Linked DNA regions of Homo sapiens. The protein of the gene in region 2 interacts with the protein of the main gene of each other region in a pairwise test. Each region holds a gene or a part of one and is shown on either strand. Other genes may lie near its edges. The genes, in order: WWP2, JPH3, TTC19, ZBTB25, PATZ1, USP10 and ZNF774.

Evidence for each region.
Region 1: the proteins of JPH3 (region 2) and WWP2 interact in binary tests that used the Homo sapiens proteins (3 or more experiments, as listed by UniProt).
Region 3: the proteins of JPH3 (region 2) and TTC19 interact in binary tests that used the Homo sapiens proteins (3 or more experiments, as listed by UniProt).
Region 4: the proteins of JPH3 (region 2) and ZBTB25 interact in binary tests that used the Homo sapiens proteins (3 or more experiments, as listed by UniProt).
Region 5: the proteins of JPH3 (region 2) and PATZ1 interact in binary tests that used the Homo sapiens proteins (3 or more experiments, as listed by UniProt).
Region 6: the proteins of JPH3 (region 2) and USP10 interact in binary tests that used the Homo sapiens proteins (3 or more experiments, as listed by UniProt).
Region 7: the proteins of JPH3 (region 2) and ZNF774 interact in binary tests that used the Homo sapiens proteins (3 or more experiments, as listed by UniProt).

The regions. Positions count from the first base shown.
Region 1 is NC_000016.10:69,768,527-69,772,846, reverse strand, and holds part of WWP2 (NEDD4-like E3 ubiquitin-protein ligase WWP2), read right to left. Parts: intron 1-4,320. UniProt on the Homo sapiens protein: E3 ubiquitin-protein ligase which accepts ubiquitin from an E2 ubiquitin-conjugating enzyme in the form of a thioester and then directly transfers the ubiquitin to targeted substrates.
Region 2 is NC_000016.10:87,605,505-87,609,824, reverse strand, and holds part of JPH3 (junctophilin-3), read right to left. Parts: intron 1-4,320. UniProt on the Homo sapiens protein: Junctophilins contribute to the formation of junctional membrane complexes (JMCs) which link the plasma membrane with the endoplasmic or sarcoplasmic reticulum in excitable cells.
Region 3 is NC_000017.11:16,006,039-16,010,358, reverse strand, and holds part of TTC19 (tetratricopeptide repeat protein 19, mitochondrial isoform 1 precursor), read right to left. Parts: intron 3,886-4,320; coding exon 3,791-3,885; intron 1,382-3,790; coding exon of another isoform or gene 1,353-1,381; exon of another isoform or gene 1,295-1,352; intron 1-1,294. UniProt on the Homo sapiens protein: Required for the preservation of the structural and functional integrity of mitochondrial respiratory complex III by allowing the physiological turnover of the Rieske protein UQCRFS1.
Region 4 is NC_000014.9:64,486,735-64,491,054, forward strand, and holds part of ZBTB25 (zinc finger and BTB domain-containing protein 25), read right to left. Parts: intron 3,807-4,320; coding exon of another isoform or gene 3,800-3,806; coding exon 3,627-3,799; intron 1,324-3,626; coding exon 189-1,323; 3' UTR 1-188. UniProt on the Homo sapiens protein: May be involved in transcriptional regulation.
Region 5 is NC_000022.11:31,332,453-31,336,772, forward strand, and holds part of PATZ1 (POZ-, AT hook-, and zinc finger-containing protein 1 isoform long C), read right to left. Parts: intron 3,412-4,320; coding exon 3,240-3,411; intron 2,965-3,239; exon of another isoform or gene 2,897-2,964; intron 1-2,896. UniProt on the Homo sapiens protein: Transcriptional regulator that plays a role in many biological processes such as embryogenesis, senescence, T-cell development or neurogenesis. Interacts with the TP53 protein to control genes that are important in proliferation and in the DNA-damage response.
Region 6 is NC_000016.10:84,776,500-84,780,819, reverse strand, and holds the end of USP10 (ubiquitin carboxyl-terminal hydrolase 10), read right to left. Parts: intron 1,926-4,320; coding exon 1,738-1,925; 3' UTR 898-1,737; downstream 1-897. UniProt on the Homo sapiens protein: Hydrolase that can remove conjugated ubiquitin from target proteins such as p53/TP53, RPS2/us5, RPS3/us3, RPS10/eS10, BECN1, SNX3 and CFTR.
Region 7 is NC_000015.10:90,354,885-90,359,204, forward strand, and holds part of ZNF774 (zinc finger protein 774), read left to right. Parts: intron 1-3,966; coding exon 3,967-4,073; intron 4,074-4,320.

The DNA.
Region 1 (4,320 bases), about 18 Mb from region 2:
GACTGGCAATGAAGAATTCCAGAAAGGGTCAATCACTGGTGGTGAGGCAGGAGGGAGGACTCGACTCAGGACCAGACTGAAGACTGGCTGAAACAGGGAAGAGGCACCAAAAGCACCTCCCCACAAGACACACCCACCAGTGCCATGACAGTGTGCCAATGCCATGGTAATGCCCCAGAAGTTACCACTTTTCTAGAAATGTCTAATAGCCCACTCCTTAACTTGCATATAATTAAAACTGGGTATAAATATGACAGCAAAACTGCCCCTGAGCTGCTACTAGGGACACACTGCCTATAGCGTAGCCCTGCTCTGCAGGAGCAGTCACGGAGCTGTAACTCTGCTGCCTCAATAAAGCTGTTTTCTTCTACTACCAGCTTGCCCTTGAATTCTTTCCAGGGCAAAGCCAAGAACCTACCCAGACTAACCCCCAGTTTTGGGGCTCACGTGCCCTGCATCAGTAGTACAGGTACCTCCGAAAGTAAGGGCAGAAGTGGGGCTAAAAACAGGAGGACTGGCAAAAGCCTATCTTGGGAATGATTAGAGTCCCAGAGTCCCCTCCCCACCCAGTTCAACCAAGCAGTTGCCCCTTCCTAATCCCAAGCAGACTTTTAGTCCAGCACTTTGGGAGGCCGAGGCAGGCGGATCACCCAAGTTCGGGAGTTCGAGACCAGCCTGACCAACATGATGAAACCCTGTCTTTACTAAAAATACAAAATTAGCCAGGTGTAGTGGTGCGTGCCTGTAATCCCAGCTACTTGGGATAGGCCGAGGCAGGAGAATAGCTTGAACCTGGGAGACAGGTCATGGTGAGCTAAGATCACACCATTACACTCCAGCCTGGGCAACAAGAGCAAGACTCTGTCTCAAAAAAAAAAAAAAAAAAAAAAAAAAGACTAAAAAGACTTTTAGTTTCTCAACAGGTGAAACCAAACTCAAGACTTCAGGCATAGTTGACAATAGGGATAAGGCACCATATTGACCCAGCGAGACAGTGAAAGTCTACATTATAAACTGAAAAGGTCAATTTCCCCCACCCAACTCACCTTCCCGCACTTGGGTCCTAGCATACATGTGTACTTCACACCTAAATGTCAACAAACATTGCAGAAGTCCTTGGCCAAAAAGCCAGATATAAAAACAAACAGAGAGAAAAAGAGAATTGTTTTTCAGCAATTGACAAGCTGATCCTAAAGTAAGGAAATGCAAGGAACCCAGAATCGCCAAAACAATCTTGAAAAAGAACAAAGTTGGATGACTAACACTTTCCAATTTTAAAACTTACTACAAAGCTACAGTCCTTCAGGCTCTGTGCCTCATGCCTATAATCCCAGCACTTTAGGAGGCCCAGGCGGGTGGATCACTTGAGGTCAGGATTTCGAGACCAGCCTGGCCAACATGGGGAAACCCCGTCTCTACTAAAAATACAAAAATTAGCCGGGCATGGTGGCAGGCACCTGTAATCCCAGCTACTCAGGAGCTGAGGCAAGAGAATAGCTTGAACCCGGGAGGCGGAGGTTGCAGTGAGCCAAGATAGCACACTGCACTCCAGCCTGGGAGACACAGCAAGATTTCATCTCAAAAAGAAAAATAATAATTATTACAGAACTTTTGACAGGAGAAAACAACTACACATCAGATTAAGCTAGTGGCAGCTCCTGCAATACCTGAAGCACCTGATCACTTTTATCACCCTACCTCAGCAACAACCTTTCAGACCTGTCAATCTTCTGGAGGCTAATAAGCTGAACCACTCATTTGCCTTTGAGTGATCCAGAGCAAGTTACTTACTGAGAGGATGGAGAGGAAAAAGCAAACTCAGTTTCTTCCTGCTATACTCTCACAACACAGAATACTACCTTTTTTTTTTTTTTTTAATAGAGACAGGATTTCACTATGCTGCCCGGGTTGATCTCAAACTCCTGGGCTCAAGCGATCCTCCTACCTCTGCCTCCCAAAGTGCTGGGATTACAGGTGTGAGCCACCACGCCCAGCCCCACAGAATACTTCTGACACCAGATGTGTGGGAGCCCCACATACCAAGTAAGCAATCAATTCTGCAGCTGGCAGACACCAGCTGGGTGTCCTCTAATTCAGTTCCTACACTATCCACCTGGAAATAGCATCAGATCCCACAGGTTTAGTTCCCCAAGACTGCCCCTGACTTGCGACATCAATTGCAAGCTCCAGGTTGTTTTACCCGTGCTTCTGACCAACCGGCTATAAATCGAGGTTCTTAGGATTGATAAATTTGCTAGAGCAACTCACAGGACTCAAGGAAACACTTTATTTGCATTTACTGATTTATTATAAAGGATATTATGAAGGATACAAATGAAGAGACGTAGGGCGAGGCATGTGAGAAGGGGCACAGAGCCTCCAAGCCCTCTCTGAGGGTGCCATCCTCCAAGAACCTCCACGTGTGCAGCCATCCAGAAGCTCCCCAAACCCAGTCCTTCAGGGTTTTTATGGAAGCTTCATTACGCAGGCATGATCAATTAAGTCACTGCCACTGCAGATCAAGTCAACTTTCAGTCCCTCTCCCTGTCCCAGAGGCTGGGTGTGGGACTAAAAGTGCCAACCCTCTAACTACAAGGCTGGTTTCCCTGGCCACTGGCCCCCAAATCCTGAGACTATCCAGGAGTCCCCAACCAAAGGTCAATTATTAGCACACAAAAAGACACTGACCAGGTGTGGTGGCTCACACCTGTAATCTCAGCACTTTGGGAGGCCAAGGCAGACAGATCACCTGAGCTCAGGAGTTCGAGACCAGCCTGGCCAACACGGCGAAATCCCATCTCTACTAAAAATACAAAAATTAGCTGGGTATGACGGCATGTGCCTGTAGCCCCAGCTACTTGGGAGGCTGAGGCACGGGAATCGCTTAGAGGCTGCAGCGAGCCGAGATTATGCCATTGCACTCTAGCCTGGGCGACACAGCGAGATTCTATCTCAAAAAAAAAAAAAAAAAAGACACTGATCACTTGGGAGATTTCAATGATTTTAGGAGTTATAGGCCAGGAAATGGGAGGAAGACTAAATATATATTTCACAAAATCATACCTACCCTCTCTAAATCTCAGTTTTCTCATCTGTGAAATGAACCCAATAATAGTACTTACTTTATAAGATTACTGTACTGACTACATGAATTCAGGTAAAGCAGAGGACACACAGTAAGAGCTCTTCAAATATCAACTACAAACAAAACCACTTCTCGATACTGAAATTCTTGGCTCTGGCATTACAAGCACCTCAATTCCTAAAATTCTTGACCCAGCTCTGAGTCAAGAAACCAGTGAACACCGATCTTGAGATGAAAAGACCTGTGTAGAAGGAGCCAGGGAAAAGCAGAAATTACACACCAGTATCAATATTTTATTTCTTGTTTTAAAAAATTTTTTTCAATATAATCCATGGGTTCACAAAGATTTTATTTCTAATTAACCAGCTGTAGAAACAGGCAGAGCTTATTTCTAACTAGAGATAAACCTTGCACCCACTTCTATTTTTTTTTTTTTTTTTTTTTTGAGATGGAGTCTTGCTCTGTCACCCAGGCTGGAGTGAGTGGTGCAATCTCGGCTCACTGCAAACCTCCACCTCCCGGGTTCAAGCAATTCTCTTGCCTCAGCCTTCCGAGTAGCGGGGATTACAGGTGCCTGTCACCACGCCTGACTAGTTTTTTGTATTTTTAGTAGAGATGGGTTTCATCACGTTAGCCAGGATGGTCTCGATCTCCTGACCTCATGATCCACCCGCCTTGGCCTCCCAAAGTGCTGGGATTACAGGCGTGAGCCACTGCGCCCAGCCTGCACTCATTTCTTGAAAGATATGCAAGGAAAAGCTCTGTCCAAAAGATTCTCCTGTTCTTCACAGGCTCATGCTACTCCAACACTAATGCTTCTTTCTTGGCCTCCTTCCTCTGTCCAGCATTGAGTTACTACCTTCCATTCTCCAAAGGCCCATATTGAAAAACAATCAAACAGAATCAACTTTGCCAAATGACATCCTTACAAAGACTAAGCACGGAAAAAGAGAAAACGGGAGGGAGCAGGGAGGTACACTATTGGAAGCCCCGTGGAATTACAGGCTAAGAATAAAAGAGGCTGACTGGAAAGCAGATCTGAAGACAAAACAAGAAGCAAAAGGCATGGGTGACTTGAGGAAGAGGACGGGCCCTAGGTCAGGACTGCCATGTCTTGGTACTTGTTATTTTTTATTTATTTAATTATTTTTGAGAAGGAGTTTCGCTCTTGTTGCCCAGGCTAGAGGGCAGTGATGCAATCTCGGCTCACTGCAACCTCCGCCTCCTGGGTTCAA
Region 2 (4,320 bases):
TCTTCCATGAAACAGGTCCCTGGTGCCAAAAAGGTTGGGGACCATTGGTCTAGAGGACTCACCCATTGAGGCAGATGTAAAGAGAATGGTGGTGAAACAGTTTCACTGACTGGTACAGACAAATCATTCCTCTGCCTGCCTTCGGCTGTGCACCTATGACCCCTGTTATGCTCCAAGAGAAGTGAACACACATATCCTATGGCAGGAATACACCTTAGACTTCAGAGCAACTTCTATACATCTTACTAAAGTCTCACCCTAGGCCGGGCACAGTGGCTCACACCTGTAATCCCAACACTTTGGGAGGCCGAGGCACGCAGATCGCCTGAGTTCAGTTCAAGACCAGCCTGGCCAACATGGCAAAACACTGTCTCTACTAAAACCCAAAACATTAGCCAGGTGTGGTGGTGTATGCCTGTAATCCCAGCTACTCGGGAGGCTGAGGCATGAGAATGACTTGAGCCCAGGAGGCAGAGGTTGCAATGAGCCAAGATCACTCCACTGCACTCCACCTTGGGCTACAGGGTGAGACTCCATCTCAAAACAGATAAATAAATAAATAAAAACAAAAAAATAAAGTCTCACCCCCAAACCCACCTCCACAAGCTGGGAGCTGCTCTCCCAGTTGACCAGCAGAGGATGTTACCTCAGAAGACACTCACTTCTTCAGGAAGGACTGACAGGGTAGGGGTGAAAACATAGGCAGGCATGCCAAGTGGCAGCCCTTCCTGGAGCATGGAATCCATGCACCGACTGAGTAGGACCAGGCACACTTCTTCTTTTTCTTTTGAGATGGGGTCTGGCTCTGTCAGCAGGCTGGAGTGCAGTGGCACCATCTTGGCTCACTGCAGCCTTGACCTCCGGGGCTCAAGCGATCCTCTCACCTCAGCCTCCTGAGTGGTGGGACCACAGGCGTGCAGCACCACACCTGGCTAATTTTTGTATTTTTTGTAGAGACGGGGGTCTCACAATGTTGCCCAGGCTGGTCTCAAACTCCTGGGCTCAAGTGAACCTCCCATCTCGGCCTCCCAAAGTGTTGGGATCGCAGGCGTGGCCCCCACATCTGGCACAGGCATAGGCACACTTCTGGTGGTTGAGTGTGCTGGAGGGTCCGGGACCAGGCGGTCACTGGCAAGGAGAGATGGTTTGGCTTGAAGAGGATGCCTAGAGCGAAAGTGAGTCCAGCCGTCCACCCAACCCAGGCAGGCAGCCGGGAGCGCTCTCCAAGGTGCTGAAGGGACTGCCTCTCTTCTCTCCTCCTCTCCTCTCCAGACTTGGAAGACAGCACCTTACTCAAGTTCGAGCCAGGACCCCAGTGCAGCGGTGGCTCCATCCACCGCATGGCCTCTCACAGCCATGAAGCTACCAGCGGGGGAAGCGGCCAGTCCACGGAGACACGGACCAATGTGGAAAATTCACACCAACATCACCCTCTCCTCTAGTACTCACAAGTCTTTTTGTCATCTAAGGACACAAAGGGCGTTACATTCAACATTATTAGCTCACAGTTGAGAGCTCGTCATATTTAGAGTTGTGGAGGCTTGGGGAAAACAGGAAGAAAAAGTCTTGGAAAGGAACAGCAGAGGCTCCTGCCCCCACCCCCACACTCCACCCCTTCTTGCTCTCTCCGGCTGGGTGTCCTCAGAAGAGAAGGGGTCAGAGTTCTCTCTCTCCTTCTCTGTGTCAGCTGGGGCTGCTCACTCACTACTCCAGATCGCTGCTGTAGGCGGGTGCCGGTCCTCACTCCCCGGCCAGCTCATCTCAGGATTCCTCACACAAAGCCCATCAAACGGCCTCACGGCCAACGTGGGTAGGGGTGCCCTTCAGCCACATTTGTTTCTCAGCTATAACTGGCAACAAAAAAATAGCTGTTTGCTTCTTCCTTTCTCTTTTCACCTTACGGAGCCTTTCACCACCCGCCCCCCGAAGTAGCGGAAAGAGAATCTCGGAGAAAACGCTTTCGTCTCCAACTGCTCAGGGCTTGCTTCTTGTTTCTGAAATGAGTTTCTGTTGGCATAATCTCCGCACCAATGAACCTGATTCCTTCTAACCTGGGCACTCATTTGAAAAAGAAATTACTTGTTGCATAGTCATAGTCATAGCCAAGCACAAAGCATACGCCCCATGGTAGTTTATTTTGTTGAGATGAGGGATTTTTCTCCCTAAAAGGGCACTAACAGCATAAACGTGTGTTTAAAATGGAAACGAAGCACACCACTGCCTCTGTCATCTGAGCTCCCCGTTTACAGGCCTGGTGGAGATTCAGAGTCCTTGGCCAGTGGAGAGCAAGCAAGGCCGCAAGGGCGCAGTGGCTGCGTTCTGGGGGACGGGGTGGAAAATGTCTCCGGGTGGCAGGTGTTTTGTGCGCGTGTGTGTGCGCAGGCGCCTGGGGGGATCTGAATTCCGACTGTGGGTGTGTGTGATTTGTGTGGGTTGAGGAATCTGGGCCGGTGAACGGGACCTGAGTATGAGGGGGAGAGGCTTGGGCGTGAGATGACTCATATCTTTCAGGGTGTAGGAGGGCTTATTGGAGGGGGTAACTTTCGATTCGAGGGGTTCTGTGTACACAGCACCCGAAGGAAAGATCTATACCTGTGCGGTGCAGCACCGGCATGCATGGTGGGCCTCAGGGGGCCAGGGGTCCTGGGCAGTGTATGGGTTTGCCCGTCTGTGCATGGGCATTCACCTGCAATTCTGGGCCACTGTACGCACAAGAGAACGAGAGATATAAACGAGAGGAAAGAACAGGAGGTGTTTTTGCACAGGGGCATTTAGAGAGCGACGTACCTAGCAAAGGCCCAGGCTCTGGGATGGCTGTCCTGAGTGTGACGCCTGCTGGTTCCTCCCAACCCACACCCACTGGGAGCCTCCACTTCCCAGTGTGGAAAATGAGAATAACAAGAAAATCACCCTCTAGAGGTGTAAGAATTAAGGGCTGTAATTCATTTAACACTTGCCACATGCTTGGCAGACAGTAAGTATCTAATGTTGCTATTTAACATCATTTACATGATCACCAGTCTCCTGTCCAGATGTTGGTTCTAATAATGATCATTGTAAGTGACATGCATTGCCTGGAAACTGTAATGAAAAAACTAACGGTAAATAATAATGTATGCTTACTATATTCCTGGCATAGCCACGCACACCATTCTCAATTAATCCTCACCCACCTTACAGGTATTGTTATCAACCTTTTGTAAAGATGAAGAAACAAGCTCAGAGAGGTTAAGTAATCCAACCAGGGTCACAAAACAGGGCATGTAGGGCAGGGATTCAAGCCCAGGATGCAAGCTGGGGTTGTGACTGGAAGCAAGTGTGCCTGTACCCCACACCCCCAGGCCTCACCATGCAGACGGTAGGAGCTACTCAGCTCAATCAGGGAGTACCCTAAGGGGAGGACACACCTGGAGGAGGAGGAGTTGGCACAGGTGTCCCCAGCTGAAATTCCACACCAATTCCAGCTACATGTGGAATACGCTGGCCGCTGGTGCATCATTCATGAAAATCGCCATTTCCCCAAGTCAGCGCCCAGAGCTGGGCTGAGGTTCCAGAGCTTCGCTGATGGCTGCCCAATATTCCCCCACTTCTTGTGCAAAGGAAAAGTCAGAGTGGAGCTGGGGCCATTAACTCCTTCCTCACTGCGACATGGCTGTCACCACCCACCAGTTGACTGGGAAGGAGGCATGGAGGTCTCTGCCCCATTCTGGCGATCCCCACACCCTGCAGGCTCCTTCCATGGGCTGCCTGGGGACACTCAGTGCCATAATCACCCCCTTCCCAACAGGAAGCTGGGAGCCCTCCAGAAAAGTGGCCCAGATGTCCAGGCCCGAGTCCTCAAGACCAGAAGGGTCAATTCTATTTCCTGTCATGCCATGTTGCCAACCAAAAGGGAGAGCCGGCCATGAAGCTCCCCATCTGCATCCCTGCCTGGCTTTGCTTATGGGAGAGCTAAGAACCGCATACCCCTTGAGAGGATGTTGACAATCTGGGCTTCTTCCGGCAATGTGATGCAAGAACGAGGGGGGTTTGGTCCCAGACAGATCGGGGATCCCTGCAGCCAAAGGCTGGGACTCCTGAATCACAAAGCCCGGGCCTTACTGGCCTCATCTGTAGAATGGACATGATCAGGCAGGACCACAAGGAGGGGAAGGGCTTAGGGGAGCAGGATGCTGAGGGAGCTGTCTGGCTGGAGTGGAGAGCCCAGGGAAGTGGACCTATAGAGAAAAACATCTCTCCCCTTAACCCGTCAGATCCTAAACTACACGGCCAGCCACAGAATCAGATCCTTTCTTCCCTAAAAAGTCACAACATAATCGC
Region 3 (4,320 bases), on a different chromosome or scaffold from region 2:
CTACTAAAAACACAAAAATTAGCTGGGCATGGTGGCACGTGCCTGTAGTCCCGGCTACTCGGGAGGCTGAGGCAGGAGAACCGCTTAAACCCGGGAGGCGGAGGTTGCAGTGAGCCGAGATTGCACCACTGCACTCCAGCCTGGTGACAAGAGTGAGACTCTGTCTCAAAAAAAAAAAAAAAAAAAAAAAATTAAAAATTAAAAAATAAAAAAAATAGATGGGGTGGGTGAGATAGCCAAGAAAATGCTCTCTTAAATTAAGCTTTGTACTATTAATATTATTTGACTTTTTATACTAACAGATAACATTGGAAATTAAAAAGAAAAATATAAATTTGTACAAAATTATAGAATACTCAGAGAAACACAAATAAAATATAAATTCCCTATAAACCTACCAACCAAAGAGAATCACTGCCTGTATTTTGATATCTATCATTCAGCCTTTGTTCCATTCCTATTTTTAGTCTACATACTAACTATACTGTTTTGTAACCAAAGTTTTCACTTAATTTTTTATGGGCATTTCCTCAGTAAGTACATATATGTCTACAACATAGGTAACAAAATAATTATCCTAGAGCAAGGTTTTATGTAATTAAGTAATGTAATTTTATGTAATTAAGTAATGTTATCCTAGAATAGAGATAGTTGTGTCAATAAAAAGCACGTAAATTTGATAATGGATTTGCTTTGTGCAAAACTGAATAGGTAGGAATTCCTTTTCTAGAAAAAATAAGATGAAGAATCATGTAACACATTTTCTATACTGTGCAACTAGTAAAATGTAAAAATAATATTTATAATAGAAATTAGCTTGCTCTATCTAACAAGAATTCCTTTGCCTGGAAAAAAAAAGTGTTTTCATAATATGTTACTAAATTGTTAAAACTCAGGTTACAAAGTAGGATATACAGTATCATCCCAAATTTATTTCTTAAAATGTAACCCGAAAAGCCGTAGTAATAAATAAAACAGTAGCTCTTTCTTAATAGTATGATTACAGATGATTTTTACTTAGTGCTTTTCTAAACTTTCTTCAGTGTTTACTGGTATTATTTTTTGAATCAGAAAATATAGCTTTACACTCCTAAGAAACCATAGTCAACACTATAAATGAAAGACAGCAAAGGTGTAAATAGTTCAGAAGTGACTTACTTGACAGCTAGACTTGTTTTTACACCTCTTGTGGATTTCCTCAAAGCACTTCCACACTGCACTGAAACTGGATTTATTTGCTGGTCTTTCTTGGGTCTTTTGTTCTTTCATTCAGTAATTATTGAGCCTCTATTATGTGCCAGGCACTGTTCTAGGCACCGAGGATTTAGCACTGAGTATAATGGATGAAGTCTCTATCCTTCTTTGATATGGAAGACAAAGACTAAAAATTTTTAAACAAAAACATACTTTTAGTGGAGAAACACAAGCACACAACACACACACCTCTACTTTTAAGTGTGATGAAGAAAAGTAAAGGAAAGAGGAGTAGAGCAATAGTAAGGTGGGAAGAGATGATAGTTTTAGTGAAGGGAGCACTCTGAGGAAGTGCTATTTGAGCAGAGACCTGAGTGAAGTACGGGAGTTGGCCAGAGAAAGGTAAGAGAGAACAGTCTAGGTAGGGGGAATATCAAGCAAAGAGGCCTTGAGGTGGCACTAAGCTTGGAATGTGCCAGAATAAGACCAGTGTGGTGAGACTGGAACGAGCAAGGGGAGAGCAGCAGATGGCATGGAAGAGGTGGGTGGGCCCAGGTCATAAGCGCCTTACAGGTCCATGCAGGGATTCTAAATTTATTCTAAAGGTGATACAAAGGTACTGAGGTCTTGAAACAGTGATGGCCTGGACCAAAGCAGTAGGGTAATGGGATGAGACATGGTCAGTATGGATATATTTTGATGGCTGATCCAGTATAACTTGCTGATGGATTAGATATGAGGAATGAGGAAGAAATCATGGACAATTCTTAGGTTCTTGGCCAAAGCAACTAAATGAGTAGTGTGCCATTTACAAATCTGGGGCTGACTGGTGACGAAACAAGTTGTGAGCGGCAAAACTGAGACCTATTTTGGACATGTTAAGTATGAGATGACCATTAGACTTCAAGTCAAGATGTCGGGTGGGCAATCATAATTATAAGTCTGCCATTTGGGGGCAAGTTGGGGCTGAAGGTATAAATCTAATATTTAAAACTATGGAACTAAAAGATATCTCCTAGGTGTTGGGGCAGAGAGAAAAGAGAATAGGGCTGAAAACAGCCCTAAGGCGTGCCAACATTAAGAGGTAGGGAAGTCTATTCACCTCACTAGAGAGACCAGTGAGGCATCCCAGAAGCCAAGTGAAAGTATTTTCAGTAGGAGACAGTGATCCCCTAAGTTAAAGCTGCTGATGAGTAAGTTAAGGATTGAGAAGTAACCATTGGATTTGGTGACTTTGATAAAGGTAGCTTCAGTGGAGTGATGAAAACAAAAAAATTGGTGTACAGTGATCCCTCCTACTCCACAGTTTCATTTTCTGGGGTTTCAGTTATCTGCAGTCAACCAGAGTCCGAAAAATATTAAATGAAAAATTCAAGAAATAATCCGTAAGTTTTTAAATTGCATGCCATTCTGGGTGGCATGAAGAAATCTTACACTGTCACACTCCATCCTGCCCAGGACATGAATCATCTTTGTCCAGTGTACCCAAGTTGTATACGGCAGCTGGCCTCAGTCACTTAGCAGCAGTCTCAGTTATCAGATCAACCCACAATGTTGCAGTACTTGTGCTCAAGCAATCCATATTTTACATAATGGCCCCAAAGTGTGAGAGTGGTGATACTGGCAATTTGAATATGACAAAGAGAAGTCATAAAGTGCTTCCTTTTAATGAAAAGGTGAAAGTTCTCAACTTAGTAAGAAAACAAAAAACAAAAAACAAAAAACTGTATGCTGAGGTTGATAAGATCTACAATAAGAATGAATCTCCTGTCTGTGACACTGTTAACAGTATATAGTTATAATTGTTCTATTAAAAGTTATTGTTGTTAATCTCTTACTGTGCCTAACTTATAAATTAAACTTTATCATAGGTACATATATATAAGAAAAAAACACAGTGTATTAGAAGTCGTTTCAGGCATCTGCTGGGGGTCTTGGAACATATTCCCCATGGATAACGGGGGACTACTCTATGTTCAAGAGAGAGTTAGAAGACCACTAGGTACAGAAGAGTTGACTGCTGTATCCCTACCATCTCGGTAGCTCTTGGTATAGAGTAGGTATTGAATAAATGTCAAATCTGAAAATTCTCAATACTTCAACCCAAATTAAGAAACCCAAAATGGTGGAGAGCTAGAGAGCTTCCTGCTCATCCAGTTCTATTCCTAGCCTCCAGAATGAGTGAGGATGGATTGTAAAAACATGAGCTTTTTTTCTCTTCTTTCTTAATTTGCTGTATATCTAGGGCTAAAACGTAATAAGCATTTTGATTGGTAGCTGAACTAAGAGATACGAGAAACACCTTCTCCTTCTGCTCCCCAATTTTCCTTAAGTTATATGTAACTAAAAGTTAACAAATAAATTATGACCATGTTACCAAGGGGGTTAAAAAAAAAACCACCACCAAAACAGCAGTCAAATATTTTAAATAAAACATCTTATTCCAAAACTTCTGCTGATACCTTAAAGACAGACACTTATTTTGCAAAATAGGTAACTTTCCCTCTTCCCAATTTAGATCTCTTTCCATTTCTCAAAAGTGTAAAGTAAAGCCTTTTGTGGAGAAAAGGCAATGCCCAGATAATGGGTTTCCTACCTGACATAATGTCTTCTGCTAATTCCTTTTCTCTTTCAATTTTTTCCTCTAGAGTTGAAATGCAGAATTCATAGCCAGCAACAGCAAATTCCTGTCTGTAAAGCAAAATCAATAATCAGCCATTTACCTTTTCTTCTTTTTTTTTTCTTCCTTCTGTTGAGATGGAGTTTCGCTCTTGTTGCCCAGGCTGGAGTGCAATGGCGTGACCTCGGCTCAGAGCAACCTCCACCTCCGGGGTTCAAGCGATTCTCCTGCCTTAGCCTCTCGAATAGCTGGGATTACAGGTGCCCGCCACTATGCCCAGCTAATTTTTGTATTTTTGGTAAAGACAGAGTTTCACCATGTTGGCCAGGCTGGTCTGGAACTCCTGACCTTAAGTGATCCACCCACCTCGGCCTCCCAAAGTGGTGGGATTACAGGCGTGAGCCACTGCGCCCGGCCCATTTACCTTTTCACAAATTCTTTTTATCTTCATTTTTCCAGCTCAGTTTAAACATTATCAGTAAAGGAAGTGTAAAATGGGAAGAGGG
Region 4 (4,320 bases), on a different chromosome or scaffold from region 2:
GTTACATTTTAATAGCCACATATTAATATGTCTTATGAGAAGATCTAATATATACAACCTTAAAACCATGGATAAGCTGTGAAGAAAAAAAGTCAATGAAACTTGAGGAGGAAAATAATTTATGAATTAAAAATGCCACGCAAATTTTCTTTTTCAGAATTGGTATAAAAATTCTGAAAGAGAAGCTGCTACTCAACTAGGATAGTATCCACATTTTCTTGTGTGAGCTCTGACTCTAAGGCACAAGGCAAGTCTAAGTGTTCTTGTGACAAGCGAGAACTTTTCAGGGAGACATCAGACCAGCTGTCACAGTATGGCTGAAATCTCTGGGCCAATGCATTACCAAACCTTTGGCATCGGTTATATCTGTAAGATTTACCTTTGTGTGTATACATGTGTTCCAACAATTGGCTCTTTCGAGGGAATTTATGACCACAGATGGTACAGCTCATTTTTCTTTTCCTTGAAAAAGAAAAATTACAGTTTAATTCTACTGGCTCTGTGTCTTTGGAGATCAAAGATACTTGACTGATCTGCAAAGGCTCTGTGGTACCCCGGTTGGTGTGGTCTGGCTGCTGTTCATTCTCCTTAACAATGAAGGAGCTGAGCCTGCGGCATTCAAGGGCCTCGCTGTTTTCATTAAGGGGATGCACTTCACCAAGGTCATTACTTTCCAGAATGGAAGCAGGGACACCGAATGGCAGGGATCCAGACACATGTGTATGGAGATGTTGCCTTAGGTTACTACGGGAATCAAAACGTTCCCCACAGTAATGGCATAAGTGTATTTTGACACTGTTTTCAGTAAAAGTGGGGCCTGTCACCTCTGATGAGGGTGAGGGGTGGCTCTGGGAGATCACAGATTCTGGGTCACATCTCTCCTGCTTGATGGAAACTGGGGGCTTCTGGTGCTCCTCCAGGGCCTGGGTGGCAGGACAGGCCCTCTGCTGGTCTGCAGTGCCATCATCCAGACCAATAGCAAGAGACAACTGCAACTGGGGGTGGTCACCCTGGACAGCAGCTCTGTTTCCACTGTTACTGGAAGGAGCTTCTTTGACCTCCAGTCCTTGTTTGACAACTGTTTTTTGGGTTGTTGAGATCTGAATGCCATATAAATTTGAGGACTGCACAGTCTCTGGTGAGAACACTTGATTCATTTCAGTTGCAATGTGAGAAAGGTAGTCGGCGTGAAGAAATCGAATCCCTTCCTCCAAACGACTATGATCCACAATCTGTTTTGGCCCTTTCCCCGTGTACATAATGTGCAACAAATAGCTGAATATGTCAGGTTGGATGTCAGTTGGTTGTATTTTTATGCATTCACTGTTAAAAACAAAAACAGACCCACAAGAAATGAAACACAACCTAGCTGGCCTTTCAGTTAACAGTATAGTCTGAGACTAAAGCAATTTCTTCCTAAGAAGTTCGAACCTAGCAATCTGCCTTAATAAAACATGGCAACAAAGGCTTAAACTTTCATTTTATACCAACTTTATGGCCTAGCAAAAAGTCTTCATGTATTCAATCTACTGCCTAAAGTTAGGAAACACAGACATACATTCTGAATAGTTCAACATTAATCAAGTGACTCCTAAGTGATATGCACTATACTAGATGCCAGCGGTAGAAAACTGATGAATAAAATAGGTACCTGCTCTTAAGGAATTTAACAGTCTATCAAGTAAACGATCAAAAGAACTAAAAACAGGGACTCAAACAGATACCTGTATGCCAATGTTCACTGCAACATTACTTACAGTAGCCAAAAGGTAGAAAGAAGCTGAGTGTTCACCAAAAGATGAGTGGATAAACACAAGATGGCTTACACACACAATGGAATATTATTCAACCATAAAAAGAAGGAAGTTCTGATACATGCTACAACATGGAGAACCCAGAAAATATCATGCTAAGTAAAATAAGCCAGACACAAAAGGACAAGTATTATATAAAATATCTAGAATAGGCAAATTCATAGAGATAGAAAGTAAATTAGCGGTTTCTGGGGGTTGAGAGGGTGAGATGGGGAGTTATTGCTTAATGGGTACAAAGTTTCTGTTTGGGGTGATAAAAAAGTTTTGGAAATAGACAGTGGTAATGGTTGTACAACATTGCGAATGTGATTATCACCACTGCATTGTATAATTAAAAATGGTTAAAATGGCAAATTTTATATGTTTATAGCCACAATAAAGATATCTTAAAACTTCTGAAAGAACCTATTGAAATCAGCAGGGTGCGGTGGCTCACGCCTGTAATTCCAGCACTTTGGGAGGCCGAGGCAGGTGGATCATCTGAGGTCAGGAGTTCAAGAGGAGCCTAACCAACATGGTGAAACCCTGTCTCTACTAAAATTACAAAAAATTAGCCGGGTGTGGTGGCGCACACCTGTGGTCCTAGCTACTAGGGAGACTGAAGCAAGAGAATTGCTTGAACCTGGGAGGCGGAGGTTGCAGTGAGCTGAGATCATGCCACTGCACTTCAGCCTGGGCACCACTGCACTCCAGCCTGGGTGACAGAGCTAGACTCCGTCTCAAAAAAAATAAAAATAAAAAATAAAAAAAACAAAAGTGTTATATGAAACAAAAATTAACAGCTTAGTGACTAAAAGCATAGACATAGCTTCAGACAAATCTGCATCTAACTTATTAGCTGTATAATCCTGCATGGGCATGTTACTTAACTCAGTCTCAGTTTTCTTTTTCCTGAAATAGGGACAGCAGTAGAATTTACATTATAGGGCAAATACTTAGTGCTTGGGTATGGGATAAGCCTTCAATAAATTTTAGCTATTCTTTCCTTTTTCTTTTTTTTTTTTTGAGACAGAGTCTCGCTCTGTCACCCAGGCTGGAATGCAGTGGCGCGATCTCGGCTCACTGCAACCTTCACCTCATAGGTACACGCAATTCTCCTCCCTCAGCCTCCCGAGTAGCTGGGACTACAGGCGCCCACCACCATGCCTGGCTAATTTTTGTATTTTTAGTAGAGACGGGGTTTCACCATATTGGCCAGGCTGGTCTCGAACTCCTGACCTTGTGATCCGCCCACCTTGGCCTCCCAAAGTGCTGGGATTACAGGCGTGAGCCATGGCGCCCAGCCAATTTTAGCTATTCTTATTTTCATTCTTATTTTCCATTATGGATCCTACACACTGAGTTTAATTACTAATGTATAAAAAATTATTATAATTTGGCCAGGCATGGTGGCTCATGCCTGTAATCCCAGCACTTTGGGAGGCTGAGGCAGGCGGATCACCTGAGGTCAGGAGTTTGAGATCAGCCTGGCCAACATGGTGAAACCCTGCCTCTACTAAAAATACAAAAATTAACCGGGCGTGGTGGCAGGCGCCTGTAATCCCAGGTACTCGGGAGGCTGAGGCAGGAGAATCGCTTGTACCTGGGAGGCAGAGGTTGCAGTGAGCCGACACTGAACCATTGCACTCCAGCCTGGGTGACAGAGCAAGACTCTGTCGCCAAAAAAAAAAAAAAAAAAAAAAAAAAAAAAAAAAAATTATAATTTTACTTCTTAGTGTGACTCCGTAACAAAGAATTTCCAAAATGATACTATAATAAAGCTTATATAAATCACAATATTAAAAATTCTTATTTACAAAAACACATCCTTACCTTGTTTGGTGAATAAATATCATCTTGAAATAGTTAGAAAAAGCAGCAAGCACTGCTCTGTGGGCTTTGAAGTAAACATCTCCAATTGCAACTGTGCAATCACACAGAAAACCAAATTCTCGCTGCATGTTCAGCTGCTGGAGAAGAACAAGGCTATGGCTGGCAGTGTCCATTGTGGTTCTGAAAAAAAGGACAAGATAAATGTAGATAGGTGTGTATGTATATACGCATTATTTTTTATTAATACAAAATTGTCTACAGTTCACACAAACCTACAGAGTAACAAGGAGATCTAAATTTAAATGAAATTATTCAAGTTTTCAATCCTATTACTTTCACTGCAAACACGGCTAACACTAAATTCCTCCATTATGACAACTGATATAAACTCTGCTGAACCATAAAATATGACCCTTTTTCATCTGGTAAGAAGATAGCTTGGTATGAGTGACACATGAAGACAGACCTGTCCTTTTCCATCTATGTGAACACAATGTTTCTAATCTTGTTTCCTCATTAGAAAAATGAAAATGAGATACTGATTCCTGCCTCAGAGTTAAATAACTTATGTGAAAATCATGTTGTAATGGAAACTGCTATTCGATGTTAGCTATAAATGTTAATAACATAACACGGTATCCTGGCTGAGCTAGAGATGTCACTCCTCCTCAGGGATCCTCTGGTGCTCAGGGGA
Region 5 (4,320 bases), on a different chromosome or scaffold from region 2:
GCCACTACAACCAACAAGCCACCGGCCCTTTCACTCCAGAGACGATGGTCTTATTAGCAAAAGGCCACTGCTCCTCAGTTGCATTTTCTTGCCTGGTGTGCCTGCACTTGGCACTCCAGAAGCAAATCATCCTTTGGCAGGTTCCACATCAATGCAGGGGTTGGGGACTGCTTTCTCCTTGTCCAAACCCTGAAGGGGCCATTCCCAACTGCACTGTGTTGGAGTGGGCCTACATAGCTTGATGTGAGTCCAGGGGAACAGCAGGTTCCCTGCATCCATCCACTTGTGTGCTTACCTCTGACTGGGGAGAAGGCTTCCTCTACCTTTCAAGCAATGATGTTTGCATTCAAATGTCTCTGTCAAAGGCGGATTCCTGATAATCTGTTCCTCTTCACCATACCAGCACATAGGCATATATACAAAGATCCTGCTACAGAAACTTTAAAGGAAGAAAATCATGGTGATCAGCCAGGGCCTTCTCCCTTTTCCACTGTTCAACTCAACTGATTTCCTCAACTCAAAAATGTGGGAACAAGCTTTTCTAGCCATAATACTCCCTCCACTGCAAATGATCTTCCTGTACAAATAGTATCATACACATCCTGATATGTCTGTATGACAAAGCCAGAGTCATCTGTCTCTTCAACTTGCATCTGACTCACGTGTGAGGCTGCAGGAGTCAGGCTGCCTTTCCTCTTTGCCATTCTTCACAGCCAGGAGTCATTTTTGTGGCAAAAATTGAAAAAGACAGATCTATAGGTAGATACTTAAGTCAACTATTTAAGAATTGTTGGGATTGAAGGATCTGAGGGCACCTGGAAGTTCACCTGATTCAATCTTAACTGTTCTGACATTCAGCCTTTGTTTGAACACATGCAGAGATAAGAACATTCGTTTATTCGTGCAACCCCTCCTGTAGGTACAGGCTTGGTGGCAGCAGGGCAAAGGAGGACACAGAGCTCTCTGCATTTTGATTCCAATGTCTCAATGTTTTTGGTGCTCAGAAAGAACTTTATCCTCTTCCTTTTTTTTTTTTTTTTTTTTTGTCTCTTCCTATTTCTGCCCAAGGAATGAGTCCAGGAGTAGAATCCTGCTCCTTCTCTTCTGATAAAAACTGCAATTGTTTTCTCTTCTTTCTGAGTACCCAGCATGGGTTGGACCAGCACCTTCTTTAGTCTTCTTGCAGGAAAGGGACTTCCCGCTCTGGCTCTGGAACCCAGAGATGTTTGGCCTGTGATCCAGACCCAGTCTTGGCTTTTCTGAGAAAAAGTAGACTCTGGTTTACTCTTCTGGATTCTCCATTCCGGTCATGTAGCTTATGGCTGTTGCCCAAGTTCTCTTTACTAGCCCTTGGAAAATAAATCCTGATGTACAATAGTTGTTGGCTTTGCCACATCAGCTGCTTCCTTACTGGGCCAACTTTCCCACTGTCCCTGCTGCTCTCAGTTTTTCTCTCCTCCTGAGCTGGGCTTCAAGGGCTGTAGCCCTGGGTCTCCTGTCCAGTTTCTGCCCTACTCCACCATCTGGTCTGGGCTTTCTGAGTTTTATCATGAGCACCCTTCTCCACTCAGCAGTTTTCAACCTCTGGTCTCTGACCCCAGTTCTCAGACTGGGAACTTCCATATTGAAAACTTGACAAAATGCCTGCTAACAGCTTGTTACAGCAGGTTTTGAGTTATCCGGGGGAGCTGTCAGGAAGCCAGGTTAGGATGAAGCAAGACAAGAAACGACATTATTTCTAGGGCTGGGGAAGCCCCAGTCAAGACAGTCAGCCACAGCCTGATAACTCTCCCTGCATGCGCAAGCCCACCGCTTGCAACCTGGAGGAAGCTCCTGTCAGCAATGGGCTCTAATGACATGTCAGAAAACAGAACAGACAGCTTAAGAGACCTTCACTACTACTTCCCTGCTTTCACAGCAGGTGTCCTGGTGGTACAAACCCCAGGTATGAAGCTGCAAGGAGGGACCCAGTTCCAGGACACCAAGAACACCCAGCTACTCAGCAATCTCCTTCCACCGTGGACCTCGGCACATGAACACAGCACAGGCACCCAACGATTCCGCCAAGGCCTGCAGGAGTGTTGTGCCTGGTCCAACCCAGAGTGTCAACAAGCATGTCTTTCCCAACATTGTTACAAAGTGCAAGGATAGAGTCTCCCAAGTGTGCGGCTCCTTTCACCTACCTTGTCTCCTGGGATCCTCATAACAGCCCTGTGAGGTGGGAAAGGGGGCTATTCTTAACCCCATTTGAGAGATGAAGAAACTCAAGCTTAGAGAGGGAATGGGAGAACTCGAGGCCACCTAGTGAGAGGCTGGGACTAAACCCTGGGTCTCTTGACTCCTGGTTCAGTGCTGCACCCACTAAGCAGGCTTTCGGAAGCATTGGGACAAGCAAGAATGCCCCAGGAGATAAGGACATCCCAGTGCTCCCCACTGGCCAAAGCAAAGCACACCATGCAGAAGCATCCTCACGTTCACAGATAGCTGCTCCAACCTCCTTTAGCACAGACACAGTGCAAGCCTCCACTGATGCTGTGCTTGCAAAACACAAACATCTAGCACTTCCAACAGCCAACTAGACCCGGCAGAACCTTGGGGACAGGCTTGACTTCACCCAACACAACACCACTGCCACAGAGTTAGACACTACTTAGGCCCACCTTGTCCTCAAGCATGCTGCCCTGCTCAGAGCACCTTCCACTTTCCTCTCTCAAGGCCACAATCTACCTGAGTTTGGGCTCTCTTCTGACTACTTGTGCTACAAAGTGTCTGCTCCTTGTTTATCTCCAGACTCAACCTCCTTCCCTGGCTGCTGAATTTCATATGCCAGTGAATCAACCAGCAAAAGCTCTCAAGCCGGACCAACCTCTTTTTCTCTCACTTTGGGACCTACTAACTCCCCCACCAACCTCAGTGGTTCAGTGGTGTCTGCAAAATGCATCCATCCTGCCATCTGAGTAGCAGGTGAGAGTTATGGGCCCAAGCTTGGGAAGAACCTCTCTCCTTCTGTTTTGACCTGCTGGTCTCCTGGGACTTCCCATTCTAAGCACCCCAAGCTTCTTGGGAAGGAAGAGGTAGCAAATAGCTAGTTGGGTGATGAAGGTGTTTATCATTCAGTGGGAAGTAGGGGGTGGCTGTGCAAAGAGTGGAGTCTGAGGCAGGGTGATTGAGACACCCCTAGGCCTCCCATACACGCTCAGGCCCATCCTCTGGAAGTGAGGAAACAGTGGGCAGATTACCTCGGTTACAGATACTGCAGAAGTTGCTGGGCCCCTCGCTGTGCTTCTTCAGGTGGTCTGCCATGTATGCTGCCCGCAAGTACTTCCCACACACCTGGCAGGGCACCTTGTCTTCATGACAGGCCAGGTGGGAGCGCAGACGGTCTCGGGTGGCAAAAGAAGCATTGCAGGTCTGAAGGCAGAAAAGAAAATGGGATGATGTGAAACCCAGCACCCCACACCTGACTCCCCACCAAGTGCACCATGAAGCAAAGGCAATTTCTGGCCATCACATGACCTCCCTTTATAAAGACAGCTTTAGAGTTTGGCTCAGGCTCCCTACCCAGAATGCCAAGAGGCTGCTCTTATTTCCCATGGTACCTCCTTACGGGACACTTGAGTGGGAATCACTGGTACTAACTAAATGACTACTGGAAATGTACCCAGGACATGGCAAGCTAAGCTCTATACCCCTCTACACAATGAAGAGTTACACATTTGCTCATCCTTAGACATTAAGAATTGACTTTAGGTGCATTAGCTATAATGCACAGAATTACATTTACATGAATTTACAGATGAGTTATTGGCATATAAACCAGCCTTCCTGTTCTGTATCCCTGGGTTTCCCCTAGTTTTATACAAAGAATTATATTTGTTCATTTTATTCAAAAGTGACATTAGTCTTGGCCAGGGAAATGGAAAGGAAAGGCAGGACAAAGTGCAGAGATAATTATTCGTAATATTTTCACGAGTTTGAATTGAAAAAGCAGCCCATTAAATGATAGTGGCAATTCTGACGACATGAGAATTAGCAGACAGCAAGGGCCAGAGGCTTCAAAAGTGTCTGTGGGCCGGGTGCGGTGGCTCATGCTTGTAATCCCAGCGCTTTGGGAGGCCGAGATGGGTGGATCACCTGAGGTCAGGAGTTCAAGACCAGCCTGGCCAACATGGTGAAACCCCATCTCTATTAAAAATATAAAAAATTAGCCGGGTGTGGTGGCAGACTCCCGTAATCCCAGCTACTTGGGAGGCTGAGGCAGGAGAATCACTTGAACCTGGGAGGTAGAGGTTGCAGTGAGCCAAGATCGTGTCACTGCAC
Region 6 (4,320 bases), 2.8 Mb from region 2:
AGTCCTCCCTGTGATTGGCTGCTTTTAGACTCCTGCTGATTGGTGCGTTTTAAGAACCGATTGGTGCATTTTACAAACCTCTTGCTAGCTACAGAGTGCTGGTTGGTGCGTTTTACAATCCTAGCTACAAAGTGCTGATTGGTGCATTTTACCATCCTCTTAGAGGACAGAAAAGTTCTCCAAGTCCCCACTTGACCCAGGAAGTCCAGCTGGCTTCACCTCTCAATATGAGTTATAATTCAGCCAAGCAAATCACAATAGAATTACAAAGGGTAAGTAGGTTAGACGGACAACACTTGTACAGAAAGTTTAGGAAGCTCTGAACCCCAGATGGCACCAGGCTACAATCAGAAATACCAGATGGTAAGAGCAAGAACTTGAGAGAAAGGCTCAGACCACGTTAAAACCCCTTCTCTGTAGATCTCAGGACACCACAATCATCCACACAGGGCCAGAAGCCGGGGCACGGGCACCCTTGCACGTGACATCCCTCTCTCCATGTCTTCCGTCTCAGAAGGCTTCCTTCCCACTACTGAGGGTGGCGTCTGGAGGCACCGCTCAGCCGCCCCAGTGGCACTCAACTGAAGAGCATTTAGCCTTGACCTACAGCAACTATTTTGGTGATACTGAAAACGGTGGGCTATAGAAACAAGGGATGAGGAGGGGAAGGGGAGAAAACCTCCTCCTTTCTGCCAATCGAAGAGTCAAAAACTTCGTGTACCCAAATCACTAATCCATTTGAAAATACTAAACAAGCATAACCTGAGTGGTGGTTCAGCTTCCACAAACACGTCGAGCTGATCGAAGGGCAGATTTTAATTCTGCAGGCAAACTCATGCCCCCATGAATTTCAGTTACCCGAAAAGGCATTCGCATTCAAAGAAACACGCACACACCTTTAAACCAACTTTGTGATTTTTATTGATGGGCGACAACTTTATACTCCTAGATATCACTAAACTGTGTACAATTAGGGACGCAGCATTAGAGAAGAGCAGACAGCAGAATTAAACAGAGCAGACTGAAGGAGAGATCTTCATTATTTGCCCATTTTTCATTATGTGTACACAGAAGCATGAATGCAATTTGAAATCTTTTAATGGCAATAAAGTTACAATCACCCATCTATGTAGACTAACATTTTAACTCCAAATATTTGATCTGCAATGTGTACGTAAGCAGTTTCTCTCAGTACAATTATTAAAATTTTTCCTGTTAGGAACCAGCAACTTATTTTTTATGTTTATTTTTCTTTTGAAGTAAGAACTAGTTCTTCTTTGATAACTGGCTCATTTTTATCATTTATCAAAAACTAAAGGGTAGGGAAGAAAAGTGTGATGGATTAAAAAATTTCTTTTTTAAGGAAAGATAAAATTCATTTTCACAAATTTACAAGTGTTGTTGCTGGTGCAGGATTTATTCTACTAAGCAATGAGACTGGGGATCAAATCCACTTTCTTATCTCAGGAATCAGCATTATTTCAGAAATATGGGTTTTTGTGTATTTTCTAAAATCAAGCAACAGTCTGTTTCAACCAAATGATTTTGATTTGGAAGTTAGAGTCAACAGAAGCTGTGTTGTGCACGAACCCCAAGGCATCTCCTTTTCATTCTAGCCCATTTTTGCAAAGGGAGAAAGAGTTTCTCTCTAAAGAGCCACTAAAGAGAGGCGGGAAGTGAGTGTGAGGTGGTGTCCTACGAAGCGGGCACTGGGCGCACACACAGCGCACACAGGGTTTACAGCAGGTCCACTCGGCGGTAATACAGGAGGTAGGCTGTGCGTTCAGCAGTTGGTTTCACCACCTGGTACTGGTTGATCACCTTGACTGTCTGGTCATCGATGCGCAGCCAGCCATTCAGACCGATCTGGAAGACGTCTGTAGTGTAATGGCCGCCCGTCGCACTGTTGCCGTGATGGTAGACCACTGGAAGAGAGCCCAGCAGGCAGCAGAGTGAGAACAGCACTGCACACGAATCATTACAGGTCTCCGCCGACTTCCCTCCAGGGATGCATCCTATGTGTAAAACCCCTCTCCAAAGCAGGTGGGACAGAGAGATGTCATCACACAAACCAATGCTATTTCAACTCAAACACGCAAGCAATCCATAATAAAAACTTTTCTATAACTGCAAGGTAAGGGTAAGTCAGATAGGTACATGTGTGCATGTACGCATATTAACCACATATTTAAAATGTCCCACGCCTCACACAGACACTCCTACACAGCCATCAGCTGTACAGGCCTACAGACCTGGCTCATGCCCTTGGATGTGGCTGACTCTACTTCTAGACTGTCCTGAAGAGATTATCTGAATCTTGGACAGAGATTATGATGTCATTTATAACAGTGAAAAAACGGAAAACCTCAATAGCCACTAGAAGAAATGACTGATGAGTAAATTATATTAAAATAACACAATTTATTTTTTCGTGGAATAGATTAAGAATGGTGATGCGGGAATACGCTTATGGTATATTAAATGAGAAAACAAGGTCCTTAGGCCTTCTGTGGCCCATCTATCCTAAAGACACGGGACACAATCTCCCGGTGCCGGCCCACATGGCAGGAGGGACCCTGGGACTGCTAACCACGGTTGCTTGAGCGTGGAGCTGTGGTGGGGCACTGCGGAGATGGTGCTGGTAGTTACGCATTTGCCTTTAAAAAAAATTACCCATTTTTCTATGTTTTAACAGAACAAAACACACACACACACACACACACACACAGTTATTTACTTAAAAAAAAAATCCTATAACCAAGAAGCCTTAGTCAAAGGCCTAAAACAAAAAATCTGTAGAAGATGTCATGAAAACATTAAGACAGCCACAGAACACATCCTCCACTTCTATGGAGCAGAGGGGCACAGGTCTGCCTGGCCAGCAGCAGACACCAGCCTCGGGAAGGCGGCTGTCCGGCAGCATTCCGCGGGGAATGACAGGGCAGCCTGCTAAGCTGCGCCCACCATCAGTGGCACAAAAGAAAAGGAACCAGGAGAGATGCAAGACTTGGCTGGTAGGGAATTTCAGCACTAAAACAAGACCAAACATCACCAGGTTCTAGTCGCAGTTGTCACGTGGAGGGGCTAAATGACAGCAGGAGGCCTCAGTCCTCTCTGGGCCAGGGACCTTGGCTGGCTAGAGGACAGTGCTTATGACTGAGGCCACCAGTCAGACTCCTGGGCTCTGCACAAAGAAATCCTCTGTGCAGGGACCCCGGAGGAGACTGAACAGCATAGGGACAGCAAGACTGTGGGGCCCGTACTTCGGAGAGCCAGGGACACAGCCAATCCAAGGGCATAGCTTCATCCTGTGCTGCACAAGTCACAGCCATCTTGTGAAAGGGCAGGAAGCACCCATGACAGCAGCATGTCCCCTGGATCCCAAGTTCACTTTGAGACTTCTGTCCTAGATCTTCACCTCACAGACCTAACTGACTGGGCTAAGAGTTTTGCTTCAAAGCGACCATCAGTAGAATCTGCAGGGCCTGGGGGTTTTACTAACTTGTCTTTCCCACAAGACATCTCCATTCTAAAATGTCAAGGGGGACTGCATGTCACCATTCTAGTTTCATAAGCAGCAGCCCAGTTAACTACCCTGGGCTGAGCCGTGTGTCACTCACACCTGCAAGCCCCCCTGACAGGAGCGCTGAGAACCGCCTGAAAAGCTTGTGCGCGAGATTGCTTCTCCCAGGCCCCACAATCACAGCAGTTCTTAAAAAGTGTTCCTTTGCTCACTCTACAGGTAATTCTAACCAGTCCGGTGACCTCATTTCCAAGATCAGAATAGGCTTCCAGCCTGGCCAAAAGGGCGAAACCTCGTCTCTATTCAAAATACAAAAATTAGCTGGATGTGGTGGTGCACAGCTGTAATCCCAGCTACTCGGGGGGCTGAGGCACAAGAATCACTTGAACCTGGGAGGCAGAGGTTGCAGTGAATGGAGACTGTGCCACTGCACTCCAGCCTGGGCGACAGAGCAAAACTCTATCTCAAAAAAATAATGGGTTAGGGGATGAGGATTCAGGAGGGCAGGGGAGAGCAACCCAGGCCCAGGTCCCGGGGCGAGGCAGGTTGCAGAGTCGGGGAGGGGTGTGTGTGCTCACACTGGGGCCCTGACCAGGAGAGGAGCAATCCCTAGCCCCTGCCCCTGCCCAGTGATGTCCCCCGCAAGAGCCTCCAGGGGAAGAGGTGCAGGGAGAAGGCGGAGAAACTGCTGGCCACCCACTGGGACCTGGGTGCCACACTCCAAGGAGCCAGGCAGGATAATGGCTGGCTGCAGAGTCTGAGGACTCAGACCTTCCATTCCAGACAGGGCTGGAGAC
Region 7 (4,320 bases), on a different chromosome or scaffold from region 2:
CCTGGGCTCAAGCGATTCTCCCACCTCAACCTCCTGAGTAGCTGCGATCACAGGCATGTGCCACCATGCCTAGCTAATTTTTTGTGTTTTTAGTAGAGACAGGATTTTGCTATGTTGGCAAGGCTGGTCTCACTATGCTGTCCAGGCTGGTCTCAAACTCCTGAGCTCAAGCAATCCACTGGCCTCCGCCTTCCAAAGTGCTAGGATTATGGGCGCCACCATGCCTGACCACTGCTCTCCTTTAATTTGAGACTTAGATATTTGGAGAGGGCCCAGGTCTGAGGAGTTTCTGGTATGTTGGCATCTTAGAGCTCCAGACCTCTGTAAGATTAATTGTTGCCTCCTTGGGAGAAAAACAATTACTTCCTTATGCATTTTATGGTTTGCAAATGTCTTTGCTATTTATTGTCCTTTTAATATCTCATCATAACTTTTTGACTTATGTATTACTATCCCCCTTTTCCAGCCTGGGTTGGACTCTCACCTCTGCCACTTAACTTCTGAGACTTCTGAGGTCTTTGTGGAAAAGGAGGTAATTTTTTCTGTCACTTAAAAACAGGCTGGGGGCAGTGGCTCACGCCTGTAATCCCAGCACTTTGGTAGGCTGAGGTGGGCGGATCATAAGGTCAGGAGTTCGAGACCAGCCTGGCCAACATGATGAAACCCTGTCTCTACTAAAAATAAAAAAATTAGCTGGGTGTGATAGCGGGCGCCTGTAATCCCAGCTACTTTGGAGGTTGAGGCAGGAGAATTGCTTGAACCTGGGAGGTGGAGGTTGCAGTGAGCTGAGACCACGCCATTGCACTCCAGCCTGGGCAATAGAGCAAGACTCTGTCTCAAAAAAAAAAAAAAAAAAAAAAACAAGGCTGGGCGCGGTGGCTCATGCCTGTAATCCCAGCACTTTGGGAGGCCAAGGCAGGGAGATCACAAGGTCAGGAGATCGAGACCATCCTGGCTAACATGGTGAAACCCCGTCTTACTAAAAATACAAAAAATTAGCCAGGCATGGTGGTGGGCACCTGTAGTCCCAGCTACTCGGGAGGCTGAGGCAGGAGAACAGCGTGAACTGGGAGGCGGAGCTTGCAGTGAGCCAAGATCATGCCACTGCACTCCATCCTGGGCGACAGAGCAAGACTCCATCTCAAAAAAAAAAAAATAAATAAAAAAAACCAAAAACACCTCCAATGCTCTTTCTCAAATATCATGGCTACCCTTCCTCCTGCTTTACTTCTTTCTTTCTTTTTTTTTTTTTGTGGCAGAGTCTCGCTGTGTCGCCCAGGCTGGAGTGCCATGGCATGATCTCGGCTCACTGCAACCTCTGCCTCCTAGGTTCAAGCGATTCCTGGATAATTTTTTGTATTTTTAGTAGAGATGGGTTATCTCCATGTGGTCAGGCTGGTCTCAAACTACTGACCTCAAGTGATCCGCTCACTTCGGCCTCCCAAAGTGCTGGGATTATAGGAGTGGGCCCAGCTCTAATTTTTGTATTTTTAGTGGAGTCGAGGTTTCACCATGTTGGCCAGGCTGGTCTTGAACTCCTGACCTCAAGTGATCCGCTGGCCTTGGCCTCCCAAAGTGCTGAGATTAGAGGTGTGAGCCACTGCGCCTGGCCTACTTCATCTATTATACAAGTAATGTATACTCATTCAATAAAAAGTCAAGCAAAATGAAAACAAACATCATCCCTAATCCCACCAATGAAGAGTTACTATCCTACCAGCATTTTTCTAAGCATATATACAATTTTAAAAGAAGCACAAAAGAATAATATTGGGATTATGCTGTATATTCAGCTGTACATTCTTTCTTCCATGTTGTATTGTGAGTATATCTTTCTTTACATCACTTAAAATAACCACCTAGTATTTTGTTTTATGGAATACAATATTATTTTGTTGATGAAGTCAAACATTAGATTGAACCATATATCTGACCTTTTTTTAACCTATAAAAATAGCAATTGCCTGAGCTACTTGGGAGGCTGAGGCAGGAGGATCCCTTCAGCACAGGAGTTCGAGGCTGCAGTGAGCTATATAATTATTCCTTTGTTGTGGGACATTTAGGTCATTTCTAAACTTTCACCAGGTTGTGATAAACATCTTTTAGCTCGTTTTTTAAAAAGTATTTTTTATTGAAGTATAATTTTATCATTTTCTTAGAATTCTCAGAATTAGAATTGGTGGGTCAAAGAACAGATACATTTCTAAGGTATTTAATACTTTGCAAAATGCCTTCCAAGAAGATTGAATCAATTGATTTATTCCCACAAACATTATATGAAAGTGCGCATTTCTTTATATTCTACCTTTCACAGTGGGTATTATAATTTAAAGAGTCTGGGCCTGGGTGTGGCAGCTCATGTCTATAATCCCAGCATTTTGGGAGGCTGAGGCAGGAGGACCACTTGAGCTCTGGAGTTCCAGACCAGCCTGGGCAACATAATGAGACCCTGTCTCTACAAAAAGTTACATTAACCAGGTGTAGGGGCTTGTGCCTCTGGTCCCAGCTACTTGGGAGGCTGAGGTGAGAGAATCGCTTGAGCCAGGAGCTCGAGGATGCAGTTAACTGTGATTGTACCAGTGCTCTCCAGCCTGGGTGACAGAGCAAGAGCCTGTCTCAAAAACAAACAAACACACACACAAAACACAAAAAAAGAGTCTGGGAAAAATAGCAATAATAGTTAACATTTATTGAAGTTTTTTTTGGAGATGGAGTCTCAATGTGTTGCCCAGGCTGGAATGCAGTGGTGCAATCTCAGCTCACTGCAACGTCCGCCTCCCAGGCTCAAGCAATTCCCATGCCTCAGCCTCCCAAGTAGCTGGGATTACAGGTGTGCACCACCACACGTGGCTAATTTTTGTATTTTTAGTAGAGACAGGATTTCTCCATGTTGGACAGGCTGCTCTTAAACTCCTGGCCTCACAAGTGATCCAACTGCCTTGGTCTCCCAAAGTGCTGGGATTACAGGTGTGAGCTACTGCACCTGGCCAATGGATCTTATTCTTATCCCAATTTTTTTTTTTTTTTTTGAGATGGAGTCTCTCTCTGTCGTCCAGGCTGGAGTGCAGTGGTGTGACCTCGATTCACCATAACCTCTGCCTCCTGGGTTCAAGCGATTCTCCTGCCTCAGCCTCCCGAGTAACTGGGACTACAGGCCTGTGCCACCATGCCCGGCTAATTTTTAGTAGAGACGGGGTTTCACTATGTTGGCCAGGCTGGTCTCAAACTCCTGACCTCGTAATCCGCCTGCCTCGGCCTCCCAAAGTTCTGGGATTATAGGTGTGAGCCACTGAGCCTGGCCTCTTATCCCTATTTTATTGATGAAGACATTGAGACACAGAGTTTAAGTAACTTTCTTAAGGCCACACAGCTTGTAAGAGGCAGGATGATGACTCAGACCCAGGCAGTGTGACTCTTGAGTTTGCACTCATTACCTCTACACTATATTGCCTCAGTGTATCATTGTTATAATGGAATTTCTTTGATTATAGTGAGGTTAAACATTTTTCGTATATTTACAGGCTACTTAACAACTGTTTGTCTTTTTCTCATGGCTTTTTTGACTGCTGCCATTCTGGGAAAATTTTAAAGCCCAACATTATAGTTAACTTCCTTCATTGTTTCTAAGGGTGAGGTCATGGAGGCTTGGTTTCTGATAAAATCCTCTCCATATTTAGCTTTAGCCTTGTACCTTCAGAAATGGTTATTGTATTTACTTCAGAGTTTCTGTCACCTGAGTCTGGTTTTTTTTCTTTATGGGAGGAAAAGGGCTTTTTTTTCTTAACATTTTGGGGAAATCACCGTGTTTTATCACTGTACCATGGCTGCACTTTTTTAATGACACCAAATACACGTTAGAGCTCCCCAGGTGTTCTTCCATACCTAGGCAGGGAGTAGGGCTTGGATTTTGCTCAGGCCTTGTGTGATTGGCTCAGACTCACATCCTATGTTTACATTCCTGTGTAGAATTTCCAGGCCTAGTGTAATCTCCCAGCCGGAGCAGAAAGAAGAGCCATGGGTCCTACCACTCCAAAACTTTGAGGCGAGGAAGATCCCGAGGGAAAGCCACACAGGTGAGATGTGAGTGCTCCCCAGTGGAAGGAAATCTAGCATTTCAGCCTTGTTTAGATGAAGAATTTGGAATGCTGCCTTAGAATTTTGTTCTTACTAGCAGACATTTTTTTTTTTTTTTTTTTTTTGAGACGGAGTCTCGCTCTGTCGCCCAGGCCGGACTGCGGACTGCAGTGGCGCAATCTCGGCTCACTGCAAGCTCCGCTTCCCGGGTTCACGCCATTCTCCTGCCTCAGCCTCCCGAGTAGC